Homo sapiens: one gene and its partners. The protein of the gene in region 2 purifies or fractionates together with the protein of the main gene of each other region. This does not show direct contact. Each region holds a gene or a part of one and is shown on either strand. Other genes may lie near its edges.

Region 1 (3,500 bases), on a different chromosome or scaffold from region 2:
ACATGTGCCATGGTGGTTTGCTGCACCTATCAACCTGTCATCTAGGTTTTAGGCCCCGCATGCATTAGGTATTTGTCCTAAATATTCTTTAGGAAAAAGATATTTAGAGGCTAAAATCTTGTCTTGTATTTGTGACACTATGAAGTAGTAAAGTTTTTTGGCAACGAAACATGCAAACCTTTGGATTTCGCTACAGAAACTTTTTTAAACCACTGACAAAAACATAAGACTTACATCTACTAAAATTTAAAAGGAAAAAAGGAAAAAACACTATATACAACTTCTATAATCATTCTTGGTGTTCAATACCTTCTCTCACTCTCAGGAACATACCTTTTTCCATTCTGGGTCAGCGTTTTCTACAAGCAGAGGAAGTGTATCTTGAAATGCTTTCTGTATGCAGCCCTTTAGTTTTTCAAAATATTGCACAGACATCCATTTTGAAGAACAAGTCGACATGATTTCCAAAAGCTGCTTGTCCTCAGAATCACTGATGTGCTCCTTTTGGGTATCACTTAAAAGAACCCCAAGTACAGTCAGGATGTCTTCCTCATACTGATAGATTTCCAGTTGGATCCGCTTGGCTTCCTGCATAGTCCATTCTCTACGACTCTGGTCTAGACAAGTTTGTAATTCTGTCTCCTTCTGAAGAAGTAGTTCAGTTTTTTGTTTCATAAAGTCTTCTTTAGCTGCCGCAAGCACCTCATTAATTTTATTTCGGTGATCATCTAAAAATTGCCGGTAATCTTGCTCATTTTGTTCTTGGATTCTGTGGATTTCTTCTTGCTTTTCTTTGTTCCATTCACTCCGAGCCTTAGCTAACTCAGCCCTGATGACCACAGGGACTTCTTCGTTCTTTAACTCAAGTTCCTTCTGAAGAGAATGAATCTTCTCTTCCAATTCCTTTCCAGGAAGTATATTTTTCCTCATATTTTCAAGCTCACTCTTCCATTTCTCTTTAGCTTCAGAAACAGCAAATGATATCTAAAGAACATAACAACATGCATTTTGAAAGTCTTTATGATTCTCCTCCTTCGCAAAAAAATTAAGGTAACTATTTTGGTTAACCTCTGAAGCTAGGAAATGTAAAATCAAAATTAAAAGGAAACATGATTTTAGATAAGACATTATTCTAAAAACTATACTTACACTAAAATTGGTCAAAATATATACATAAATATGTTTATATGTATGTATAGACACATAAACACTCACACATATAATTATATAATTAGCCAAAACTAATGTGAGAAAAAATTTCATATTACTTTTCTTAATACAGATACAATCTCAAATTTTATCTGTGCCCCCAACAAATTAAGTATCTTTTACCTAAAGCAAAAGCGGACTCATAAGGATTTTTTACTATTACTTAGGAATATAGCACACACCTGCATAATTACTTGCTGATAAGTGTAACTGTATTTTAATGCACTTTTAGTGGCTAGAACAGTTCATTAAAGGACAATACCAAACAGAAAAAGTCATTTTTCATTAGTCTAATTTGTTTGTATGACAGAATAATAGAACTAGTGGATCACAGAAAAAAACAGGTAGTACATAACTAAAAAGTAATAGCGAAATCAAAAAACCTAAGCTCCAATCCTGACACCAATTTGCAGAGGAAGCCTAGCACAGATGCTTAACAGAACAGAATCTGGAGACAAACTGCTGGAATTAACTTACCAGCTGAAGAACTAAAGGCCCATTCCTCAACTTCTTTGAGCCTCAATTTCCTCATCTATAAAATGGGGATAATTACAATGCCAATTTGATAGCATCCTTTAGGATTAAATGACATAAGGACATAATCCATTTAAAGTACTTAGCCCAGAGCCTGGCAGATGATAAGGACTCAATAAATCTTATGTAGTTATTACTTTTGGATGCATGGCCTTGCAAAAGTCACTTAATCTCTTTGGCACTAACATCTTCACCTATATAAAGGAGTAGAGTAGATAATGGCCTTGAGTCCCTTTCACTTTTAATATTCCTGACTGAATTCCTAACTGAATTCAAAGAAGGCACAAGGACGCACTAGTGTCAAAAGACAGAACTGGGCATCTCCAAAGGCTTGGCCTAGACAATGGTGGTTACCATTGATCAATACTATATATATGGCTGGGATGATGGGATAGAGTACCTACTAAATAAATTTTCTGCTAAAGGAACCCACTATCTAAGGTGAGCTTTACAAAAGAATTCACTGCAAAATTCCTTTGCTACCAGCAGAATAATTCAGTAGTGATTTGAAACATGTTTAAATAGTGTTTTTAGAGAAAACAGGTCATGTTGCAATGGATGCCTGGAAGTCATTCCCAGGTGACTCGGATAGAGGTGATGGATTCCACAGAATTTTTATAACCTGCCCAACCTTACCAAAATGTGCATTTTCTCATGTGAAGTTTTACAAAGAGAATTTGACAGCATTCATCAACTCAGTGCTTCCCAAACTTTGCTGCACATTAGAATCACCTGAGCAGCTTTTAAAAATCCTGATGCCCAGGCCAGGGCCCATACAAAACAAAGTTTAAGGGTAGGGGCCAGGCAACAGTATTTTTTAAAGATCCTCAAGTTATTCCAATGTGCAGCAAAGTTTGAGAACCACTGAACCAACTTAACTACTTCTGAATTCTAGAAACTGTCTTCACACTGTCACAGATCTCAACTAATCACTCTAATCTTAAAATAACTCTATAGCCAATGCTATGGAACCGGCCCTTTCTGGACCTCTTTTGGTTTGGAGGAAGGATGCACAACATGTTGACATTATTTTTTGTGGCTGATATAATTATCTGGAATAGTGCTACTTACATCCAAGTGTAGTCCAAAGACCAGCTGGGAGCCTGTTAGAAATGCAAATTCCAGCCAGGTGCGGTGACTCCCACCTGTAATCCCAGCACTTTGGGAGGCCGAGGTGGGCAAGATCATCTGAGATCAGGAGTTCAAGACCAGCCTGGCCAATATGGTGAAACCTCATCTCTACTAAAAATACAAAAATTAGCCAGGCGAGGTAGCGGGCACCTATAATCCCAGCTACTTGGGAGGCAGAGGCAGGAGAATCGCTTGAACCCAGGAGGTAGAGGTTGCAGTGAGCTGAGATTGTGCCACTGCACTCCAGCCTGGGAAACACAGCAAGACTCCATCTCAAAAAAAAAAAAAAAAAAAGGCAAATTCCCAGGACACCCTCCAGACCTACTATATCATTATCTCTAGGAGGAAAGCCCAGATAGCTATGCTTTAACAAACCCTGCAAGTGATTCTCAGGCCTGCTGAAGTTTGAGAAGCAACAAAAACACTTTTCTCTCATTTCTATATGTCTGCTTTCACAAACATACAGCCTTCTATGTTCTTATGAAAAGATCTCTTGGCCTGTTTTATTTTCTACATTGTACTCAACTTTACTATTCTACTTGACTTCTGAGCTCTGAGACACATATCCTCACAATCATATTGTTTCTTCTCTCTCTCCCTCTTAAATTTCCTTTTAAAATATTTCA
Region 2 (3,500 bases):
AAGCAGGCCCAGACACAGGGAGTTCAGCTCGAACGTTTGCTCCTTACTTGCTGACCGACACATTCACTTCTGATGGGCTGTGCTGTGTAATGACCCAGTCCTTTCTGTCTTCCACCCAGGGGTCTCAAGTGAAGGGCCAAGGGCATGGGTAAGGGGAGGAGAGGGACAGAAGGGGACTCAGGACTGTGGAGAGTTTCCGGTTCTGGGCTGGAGAGGGAGTTGGGCAGGTGAAGGGGAGGAGGCAGGGTCCCTCTGGCCTGACTCCAGGGAGGCAGTGAAGCTGTGGCCTGGGAGGCGGGGCTCGTGCCCCTGGGTAGGTAGCAGTTAGAGCTGTGGCTTCTGTTTCCTGTAGCCTTCCTAACAGGCTCCGGCAGGCGTTAGGGCCTTCCTAAGTGCTACCCGAATGCGTGTCCAGTGGGAGGAGAAGGGGGAGGACCAAGAACCTAGATGAATGGCCCTAGAGAGGTAACATCTGTTTGGTGCCTGCTGTCATTGGAGGTGGGTTGAGTTGGTTGATGGGATTTCTCTAAAGATATTGAGAAACTGCTTTCCTCTGAGGGCAGGTGTCCTTGGGAGCTCCAGATGAGATTCTTGTTGAGGGCATCTCCGGAGGGAACTCTCAGGGGATGGAGGGTGAGAAAACTTGGGCAGGGAAGAATCGAACTAGGGGTGTAGACTGAGCAGGAGGCTGTCTTCGGGCTGATCCCACAGAGCGCTCGCTGTCCCAGGTAGCCAGCTTGAGACAAGACAGCCGGGCTTTTGGTGTCAGGCAGTCACTGGCTGTGGGCTGCCCCCCAAGAGCAAGGGGTGGGCCTAACCTGTGGTGTGAGTAGTGGAAGGCGGTTCTCTGGCCAACGGGCTGCTTGCTGCTGTTAGCAGTTGGAGAATGGATGCCTCTGCCCGGTAAAGGGCACCTGGGGCCGCGCCCGCAGCATTCACTAACTCGTAACTCTCCTTCCCTTCCTCCAAACACAAAATTCCATGACACTAGACAAGAAAGCTGATGCTTGGAAAAGAGAATTGGCCTTAAATACCTAGATGGACTGGAGAGACCATCCTTTGTGGTCCATAGCTTGACCTCTGAGTACCCTGTCCCCATCCACCTGCAGACCTGCTGAGGCTCCCCTCTGGCTTTCTCCTGCAGACCCCTCTGCCATGAACCAGTCCATCCCAGTGGCTCCCACCCCACCCCGCCGCGTGCGGCTGAAGCCCTGGCTGGTGGCCCAGGTGAACAGCTGCCAGTACCCAGGGCTTCAATGGGTCAACGGGGAAAAGAAATTATTCTGCATCCCCTGGAGGCATGCCACAAGGCATGGTCCCAGCCAGGACGGAGATAACACCATCTTCAAGGTAAGCCCCGGGGAGGAGGTTGGCTGGACCTCCAGGGCACCCTGTCCCCAGAAGAGGAGCGCACATAACGCACACAGGCAGCTCCTCGAGGCTGGCCACCCGCCCAGCTACCATGCTGCTGCTGATGCCGGGCCCGGACTAAGGGGATGCAGACGTAGACACAGGGTACACCTTTTTCCTTTTTTTTTTTTTTTAAGACAGAGTCTCGCTCTGTAGCCCAGGCTGGAGTGCAGTGGCACGATCTCAGCTCACTGCAACCTCTGCCTCCTGGGTTCAAGCAATTCTCCTGCCTCAGCCTCCTGAGTAGCTGGGATTACAGGCATGAGCCACCACGCCTGGCCTAGGGCACATCTTTTCTAACCTGCACCCTAGAGCATCGTGGGGACTGAGGGTCCCCAGAAGGCCTTCCCATAACTCGTCCTACTCACCCTTTGCTCGTCTCACTCCTATTACTCATGAGGACTTGTTCAGTGCACGCATATGCTAAAGGAAGCCAACGATCATCATCTTTCTAAAAATTTTATTTTTAAATTAGTATATATTTATGGGGTACACAGTGGTGATTTGATAAGCACAGTGATCAGATCAGGTACTTAGCATATCCATAATCTCAAACATTTGTCATTTCTTTGTGTTGGGAACAAACTATTTTTAATATAAGATTCAGATACATCATCAATCTTTCAATTGTTTAAATTTTCTAATTTTTTTTAGAGACAGGGCCTCACACTGTTGACCAGATTCCAATTTTTTTTTTTTTTTTTTTTTTTTTTTTGAGACAGGGTCTCACTCTGTCACCCAGGCTGGAGTGCAGTGGCTTGATCTCAGCTCACTGCAGCCTCGACCTCCCAGGCTCAGGTGAGTCTCCCATCTCAACCTCCTTGAGTAGCTGGGATTACAGGTGCCTGCCACCACAACTGGCTAATTTTTTGTACTTTTAGTAGAGACTTTGCCATGTTGCCCAGGCTGGTCTTGAACTCCTGGACTCAAGCAATCCACCCACCTCAGCCTCCCAGAGTGCTGGGATTACAGGTGTGAGCCACCATGCCCGGCCCAATCTTTTTTTTTAATTGATGTACTACAACTGTACATATATACTCTTTTTTTTTTTTTTTGAGATGAGTTGTTGCTCTGTTGCCTAGTGTTGCACCATTGGTGAGCAGTGGTGCAGTCATAGCACAACCTCCAACTCAGCTCAAGTGATCCTCCAGTCTCAGCTTCCTGAGTAGCCGTGACTACAGGTGCATGCCACCATGCCCAGCTAATTTTTTTTTTTTTTTTTGAGATGGAGTCTTGCTTTTTCACCCTAGCTGGAGTGCAATGGCACAATCTCAGCTCACTGCAACCTCTGCCACCTGGGTTCAAGCAATTCTCCTGCCTCAGCCTCCCGAGTAGCTAGGATTACAGGCACCTGCCACCATGCCCGGCTAATTTTTTTTTTTTTTTTTTTTTTTTTTTTTTTTTTTGTATTTTTGGTAAAGACAGGGTTTCACCCTGTTGGCCAGGCTGGTCTTGAACTCCTGACCTCATGATCCACCTGCCTTGGCCTCCCAAAGTGCTGGGATTACAGGCGTGAGCCACCGTGCCCAGCCTAATTTTTTGATTTTGATATTTGTAAAGATGAGGTCTCACTTTGTTGCCCAGGCTGGTCTCAAGCTCATGGGCTCAAGTGATCCTCCCACCTCAGCCTCCTGAGTAGCTGGTATCACAGGCGCAAGCCACTGTGCTCTCTCCAATAATCTTAATGCTAGGATGTACCTCGCATAATAGTTTTTGCTTACATTTTAGTTTTTTTGCACATGTGTGTATATGGAATGCAAAATTGGAATCAAGTGAATATCTTGATTTATAGCCTGGATTTTTTTCACCCAATATCAGGATCAGCTTTCCTTTCCAACATACGTCCACATCACTTTTCGTGACTGTAGAATTTCCACTGGAATGGTTTAGCACAATTTGGTCACTGAGTCTTGGTTTTTAGATACTTGAGATTGCTTTTAAAACCTGAACTTAAAAACCACATTGTCATGTAGGCTGTCTTAATGCTTCCCTTTTTTTCATCCTCAATTATTTTGGGGGTTGATTTCCTAGAGTTGAAAATTGCTGGGTCAAAGGCAATGCTTATTTTTTAAAACTTTGGGTACATATTT
Region 3 (3,500 bases), on a different chromosome or scaffold from region 2:
CACCACCAGAAAGTAATTAAGTTGAAGGCACACTTAAATAGAGTAGTAAACCACAACACTAGATGGAGATGGGGTAAGCTGTAATTGCTTCTTTGTAATTCAAGAAAACTTTCAGCCTTCTGTGCCTTGGCTGGGCTCTGTAACCAAATATCTTGTTAGCTATATGCGTATACCATTTAATTTCAAGTACAAAAATGTTTCACCATTTACAAGTTCCCAAAGAAAAGCACCTCTCTAATTTGGCGGTTCAATGCTATACTACTTTTTATCAATTTTATGTAACCAACTCAACGTTAAGTATACCCATAGCAGGCCGGCCGGGCACAGGAGCTCAAGCCTGTAATCCCAGCACTTTGGGAGGCTGAGGCAGCAGAATCTCTTGAACTCGGGAGGGCGAGGTTTGCAGTTAGCCGAGATCGCACCACTGCACTCCAGCCTGGGGGACAGAGCAAGACTCTGTCTCAAAAAACAAAACAAAACAAAACAAAACCCAAAGACAGCCTATTAATGGCTTCCCACTTTCCTGGACTAGGGTTTAAGGACCAGTAACTGCTGACAAGGCCAAGCCATACTAGAGCCTGAAGCAAAAGGAACAATCAGTAGTGCTGATCCTGTCTTTACCTAAAATTTTAGCATTGTGTACATCATGAATTTCTGCATTAATTTTGGTTTTTTAAAAAAATTGCATAAAATATTATTTATGTTGATTACTTTTTGGGGGTCCCTTAAAATTTGCACCCAAGGTACGTGCCTCACTTGCCTTGCCCTGGGCCTAGCCCAGCTCCAGCACTTCTTTGCCCAGTGGCCCACTGTTTAATCCACTGGCAGAAGTAAGCAGCACAATCTATGACCACAGAACAGATGGAGTCAGCCTAGCACGCCCATGATATCACACATATGGTCATGACCTTGCTAGCGCAGAGCACTCTTTCAATCTCAGCTAACTGAATAGTTACCAGATAGAAGAAAAGGAAACTACCTACAAAATAAAAATAAAATGTCATAAAATTCTTGTACAACTACATTTAAAATATAACCGTTTTCTTCACAGATTTTGAATTTATGGATAAAAAGAAAAAGATTACCAGCTTCCTCCACTGAATACATCTCTCGCCAAAACATCCTATGTTTGTAGTCATCTTTTGGGGCATACAAGTATGTATTTAATTCCCATTTCTGGAGCCTTAAGGAGAAAGAAAATTACATATGTATAAACAGGCAACATTCATAGGCTGTCAATCTCCATTTCCCTCTTCTTGGAGCATCTCCATCTCATACAAAGCTAATATTCTATGACAGTAGCTTTTAACCTTTTTGTAATCAGTGGAATTTAAAAAAATTAAGTATTACAATGTATGCCAACATACAAAACACTCTTAAAAAACACAACAGCTCTGGGTAAGGTGAAGCCCAAAACTTATTCAGCTCCCCAGGAAAAGTTTGAAAATCAAAGGCCTAGGTGAAGAAAAAAGGGACCAAGGTAAAATAACTTCTGCAATTGAGAAACCATCAAAATGCACCTGGGCTATTCACTGTTAGTATTTCTTCAAACAAAAGAAAATGTTAAGAGTTTAAGGTTCTCCTCTCTCCTTCATATAATGAAGATTTACCTTCTAAAGAGTTCTTTTCTCTGTTCCATAACCCAAGGTCTTCCATAAAATCCTAGATTCAAAGTAAGAATGAAATTATATTCAGTTTTAAAATGTGGTAAGCTTTATTGAGAAAAGCAAGTTACAAAACATATAATACAATCCTATTTTGTAAAAAGCATAAAATACACCAAATCGGAAGGATATTTAATAAAATACTAAGGTTCCTTTAATCTTTGGGTGGTGACGTTACAAGGTGACTTTTATTCCATTTTTGCTTAGGTAATTTTTTTTATTTTTTCTACCATGACATTAGTTACTTAGGTGATAGTTATTTTAAAACAAACATCTATCATCTTTCCACTGTTGATAAAGTCCAAATATATTTAATTCCAATTTTTTAAGAGATCTCAATCTTATAATGGGGAACGGCAGCAATGTAATACAAGCTGCCAACAGTAACAATTACTTCCTAGAATGATAGTAAAACTGCTTTAGAAAGGGTGAGGGGAGGCCGGGTGAGGTGACCCACGCCTGTAATCCCAGCACTTTGGGAGGCTGAGGCAGGTAGATCACTTGAGGTCAGGAGTTCCAGACCCAGCCTGGCCAACATGGTGAAACCATGTCTCTACTAAAAATACAAAAATTAGCCAGGTATGGTGGCAAATGCCTGTAATCCCAGCTATTTGGGAGGCTGAGAAACAACAATCACTTGAACCTGGGAGACGGACTTGCAGTGAGCCGAGACTGCGTCACTGCACTACAGCCTGGGCTACAGAGCAAGACTCCATCTCAAACAACAACAACAAAAGGGTGAGGGGAGATAAACAGGTAAAGCAATTAAAAACAAATCAGAGATAGGATTAGGAAAGAATCTGACTTAATTTTATGATCGTGCTCCTCTTTTTTAAAAAAAGTTCCTGGCCAGGACTGGAATTCCAGTTACTTGGGAGGCTAGGGCAGGAGAACTGCTTGAATCCAGGAGGCGGAGGCTGCGGTGAGCCAAGATCCGCGCCATTGCATTCCAGCCTAGGTGACAGAGCAAAACTCTCTCTCTCAAAAAAAGTTCCACATACAATGATATAATCAAAGGGACCAAAAAATGCCTGAAACCACATTCCCAAGAAATTCAACAGCCTAACTGGCCCAAACAACAAACTCTCACGCAATCTTAATTACAGAGCAAAGATCTGAACAAATGAAAATTCAAGAATATTACTTCTGGTCCTTAAACGGAAAGGAATAAACAAAGAAAACTCAAGAATGTCCCCAGAGTATCCTCTAAGAGGACAAAACACTAGTTATGCACACACTGCAGAAAACAAACTCGCAGACCGATAACCTAAATGGTTGAATAAGCATCAAACTGGTATCTGGAACTCCCTAGTGTGCTCATCACAGCTCAAACCACACACTTTACATCTTGTCTAACCTTTACTTTCCACTTGTCTCAGTCTAATCATCAGTAAGAGATAAGGACAGCCTCTCAAGAGTACCATGAAGAAGGTTAATAAAAGCATTCTGAACACAAAATGTTCTACATAAACCCACACAATCTACATAAGAGACTAGTCTAAAACAAATTTCTGCAATGTATTTTAGCTCCAATCTCTAGGCAGAATGACTCCTCTGCACCACAAAAAGGACAATGACAGACCAAATTAAAATTCATTACATACCAATGTATAACTGTAGCACTTTCATCTGGACAATCTAATGTTAGCCTCTCACAAGTGATACAAAATATTCTTTTTTTTTTTTCTCAGGCGGAATCTCACTCTGTCGCCCAGGCTGGAGTGCAGTGGCACTATCTCGGCTCAATGCAATCTACGCCTCCAACTCCCGGGTTCAAGCGATTCTCCTGTCTCAGCCTCCCGAGTAGTTGGGATTACAGGAGCCCGCCACCACGCC
Region 4 (3,500 bases), on a different chromosome or scaffold from region 2:
ATGCACTGTTAGGTGAGAAGACTAGGCTATACTACAGTCAGTACAACTATAATCCCATTTTCTAAATATTACTGAACTTATTTTTAAAACCTTGAAGGGTGTGTAACAATCTCTTAGCACTAACTGCTCGTGGGTGGCAGGAATCCAGGTAGTTTTTTACATTCTTTTTGTTCATATCTTCCAGCTTTGTTTTGTTTTTACCATGAACATGTACTAGCAATATAAAAGGAAGAGAGGAAGGGAAGAACTTAAGAGACAGAAGACTGGAATAACATACACCAAACCAAGAGTGATGCTCCCTGAATGGCAAAGTTTTCATTTTGTTCTTTGGGCTTTTCAGTATTTTCTAAATTTCCTACAATAAATGTACATTATGTTTATAAGAAAAAAAGTTACAATATAAGAGTCTCTACGTATTCAAGTAATAGTTTCTAGAACACACAACAGCATTTCACTAACATTTTTATGAAACTCAACAAGGAGGTTCCATGCTCACAGAACAAGCATTACTTACATCAACTACATATAGCCAGGATAGGTGTGAGATAAAGGCAGTGCTTAAGTAAGGGAAAAGACATCACTTCTGCTTATCAAACCTTATTTTCTCACTGACTCACATACAAGGAAATGGGCTGTTCAGAAAAAAAAAGTACAGCAGTACCAAGAACACCTTGTACTCTTTTTCAGACTGAATTTTACGGGGCTCTAACTACGCAGTAGGCTCTGTAGTATGCAAGGTCAGAGCCTAGCTTCTTTATTCCTGTCCTCCTCAAAAGTCAGATAGACAGAAACTATTATCCTCATTTTATTGAGAAAGAATCACCCAAATTTATACGACAGTCAGTGCTGTAGGTGGGAGATGAACCAAAGTTCTAAAATCAAATCCTAAACTCTTTCCTTATACCACTCTCATTTTATGTAACTCACCAAAAATGTTAAGAGGACATAAAAGACTATAATTATGCTGGTTTATATTTTTAAATGGTCCTCAAATTTTGATAAAATTTAACTTTTACAAAGTATCTTGAACTAAAAAATGACAAAACACTGAAAAAAGAGAATTTAGAATTTTTTTTTTTTTTTTGAGACGGAGTCTCGCACTTTCACCCAGGCTGGAGTACAGTGGCACAATCTCGGCTCACTGCCAAGCTCCACCTCCCGGGTTCATGCCATTCTCCTGTAGCTAGGACTACAGGCGCCCGCCACCACGCCCGGCTAATTTTTTGTAATTTTAGTAGAGATGGGGTTTCACCATGTTAGCCAGGATGGTCTCAATCTCCTGACCTTGTGATCTGCCTGCCTCGGCCCCCCAAAGTGCTGAGATTACAGGCATGAGCCACCGCGCCCAGCCGAGATGTTAGGATTCTTAAAACATTCTGAAGTGATTAACAGAAACATTTGCTAGATTTTTTTGCTAATTGTTTTAAATGACATTACAAAGAATCTTGAAACATCTTATTTGCAGCAATTTTACAAGCTTAAAAATTGCCTTTATTACATAGACACATCGTGTAGAAAAAAAGTTTTCAAAAAAGCCTTATATATAATGTACCAAGCAAGCCACCAGAGGGAGCTTTATATTTAAAATTAAAATCCACAAATCTTTTCAGAAATCTGATCAATAGGTGTGCTTTAACAAGTTCTACTCACTGTACTGGGAGAATTTGGTTGGCAATAATTCTCCTGGATTAGAATAATGATACGTACACAAACATAAAGCAGCAATTGGATAGACAAGGCTTCCTATCCATATGACTCTAGGCTTTGGTCTCATTTGTAAAATGGGAACTATACTACTGGCCTTGCTACAACCTCATATACACTACTGAAAACCCACAGGCCATGCTAGACACATAGATGAGGACCCGCAAATTATCAGGAAGGCCAGGGCCCTGAAGGGAACAGTGAAGTGAGCCAGGCAGAGAAAGTGACAGAGCACCCACTCCCACTTCTAAGGCAACAACCACCAATGAGTTCCCGAAGATTACGGCCACATGTTTCCAATGTTTTCAAAAGACAGAAATCTAGACTTTTTTTTTTTCTTTTTTTTTGAGACGGAGTCTTCTTCTGTCACCCAGGCTAGAGTGCAGTGGCGTGATCTTGGCTCACGGCAACCTCCACCTTCCAGGTTCAAGCGATTCTCCTGTCTCAGCCTCCCAAGTAGCTGGGATTACAGGCAAGCGCCACCATGCCCGGCTATTTTTGTACTTTTAGTAGAGATGTTTCACCATGTTGGCCAGGCTGGTCTCGAACTCCTTACCTCAGGTGATCCGCCAACCTTGGCCTCCCAAAGTGCTGGGATTACAGGCGTGTGCCACCGTGCCAAGCCAAAATCTAGACTTTTAATTCAAATCTCCCCATTTACAATTGTTAGCCACTATTTAAAAAGAAAAAAAGGCCATATGACCCAAACAAATTTCCCTACAAGCTGATGGCCTATGAGCCACCAGTTTAAAATCTTTACTGTCTATCCGTGCTCCCCTTTAATTCTCACAACCACCCCACTAGGGGCAGGTATTATGATATCCATTCTACACAGAAGGAAAAAGGCAAAGAATTTGTTAAAGGTAAGGCAAGTCCCAAAAGGAGAAGCCAGTATTCCAACCCAAGACTAAATGCCCAGGCTACTTCTCCTAAAATCACTGCCTCTCTTATGAGAAGCAAATGAGAAAACACACTTTGAAAACTGCCAAGACCCATACAAACATAAAGTAATGACGCAATTATTAAAGGAGAAAGAGAAACAAAACTACTAATATGAGCTGTGAGTCAGCAGAGAATGAAGGTCAGGTCAGGCAAGCTACTGCACCTCTTTAAACCTCAATTTCTTCACTTACAAATAGGAGACGCTAATAGTCCCTATCTCAGAGTTAAAAGGATGAAATCGTGCATAAAGCGCTTTAGCATAGGTCCTGGAACAGAGTAAGAGGTAGATAAAGGTTGGTTAATATTAATATTATCATACCCACTGACAGCCAATTATAAATATCACTTTTCATTCACTGTTATTTTGCCCCTAAAGGGAGGGGGTGGGGGGAAGGAGAGACAATCATTTGGGTTTGTGTTTATGGGGAGGAGAGAGTAGTTTCACAAGACAACTTGATAGTTCCTCCAGCTATAACTTTCTTACCGTGAACAAAAAAGTTTCTCTTATCCAGTAATATCCCTATGCTCCAGGAAATGACTCAACTGGTGACATGTGATTTACTCATGAAAAAAATCAGGCCCCAGAAATTCAAATGCACCATCAAAAACCATTTAAAATGGCTCTTTAATATAACAACTGATTTCCGGAACAAAATGTGTATTTCTGAATGTGTTTTTGCTACTTTCCAGGCTTCTCTTGGCTGAAAAAAATCTAAGATATGAGAAGAAGATACTAGTAGGAATCCCCATTCTGGAAACTTACCTGAAAAGCATCTGCTTCAGCATCCGATTGGCTGTCACAACTCTGGGAAGACGGCCAGTGGAGAGGGAGTGGAGCTCCAGGTTGGAAGAAA

What was found.
Region 1: the proteins of IRF5 (region 2) and CEP152 purify together in Homo sapiens (affinity purification with mass spectrometry; one large-scale study listed by BioGRID and IntAct). This does not show direct contact.
Region 3: the proteins of IRF5 (region 2) and OGA purify together in Homo sapiens (affinity purification with western blotting; one study listed by BioGRID). This does not show direct contact.
Region 4: the proteins of IRF5 (region 2) and PSMB7 purify together in Homo sapiens (affinity purification with mass spectrometry; one large-scale study listed by BioGRID and IntAct). This does not show direct contact.

What each region holds. Positions count from the first base shown.
Region 1 is NC_000015.10:48,755,570-48,759,069, forward strand, and holds part of CEP152 (centrosomal protein of 152 kDa), read right to left. Parts: intron 985-3,500; coding exon 334-984; intron 1-333. UniProt on the Homo sapiens protein: Necessary for centrosome duplication; the function also seems to involve CEP63, CDK5RAP2 and WDR62 through a stepwise assembled complex at the centrosome that recruits CDK2 required for centriole duplication.
Region 2 is NC_000007.14:128,940,927-128,944,426, forward strand, and holds part of IRF5 (interferon regulatory factor 5), read left to right. Parts: exon of another isoform or gene 1-498; intron 499-1,144; 5' UTR 1,145-1,155; coding exon 1,156-1,350; intron 1,351-3,500. UniProt on the Homo sapiens protein: Transcription factor that plays a critical role in innate immunity by activating expression of type I interferon (IFN) IFNA and INFB and inflammatory cytokines downstream of endolysosomal toll-like receptors TLR7, TLR8 and TLR9.
Region 3 is NC_000010.11:101,811,945-101,815,444, forward strand, and holds part of OGA (protein O-GlcNAcase), read right to left. Parts: intron 1,663-3,500; coding exon 1,611-1,662; intron 1,184-1,610; coding exon 1,086-1,183; intron 363-1,085; exon of another isoform or gene 308-362; coding exon of another isoform or gene 304-307; intron 1-303.
Region 4 is NC_000009.12:124,408,943-124,412,442, forward strand, and holds part of PSMB7 (proteasome subunit beta type-7 precursor), read right to left. Parts: coding exon 3,410-3,500; intron 1-3,409. UniProt on the Homo sapiens protein: Component of the 20S core proteasome complex involved in the proteolytic degradation of most intracellular proteins. This complex plays numerous essential roles within the cell by associating with different regulatory particles.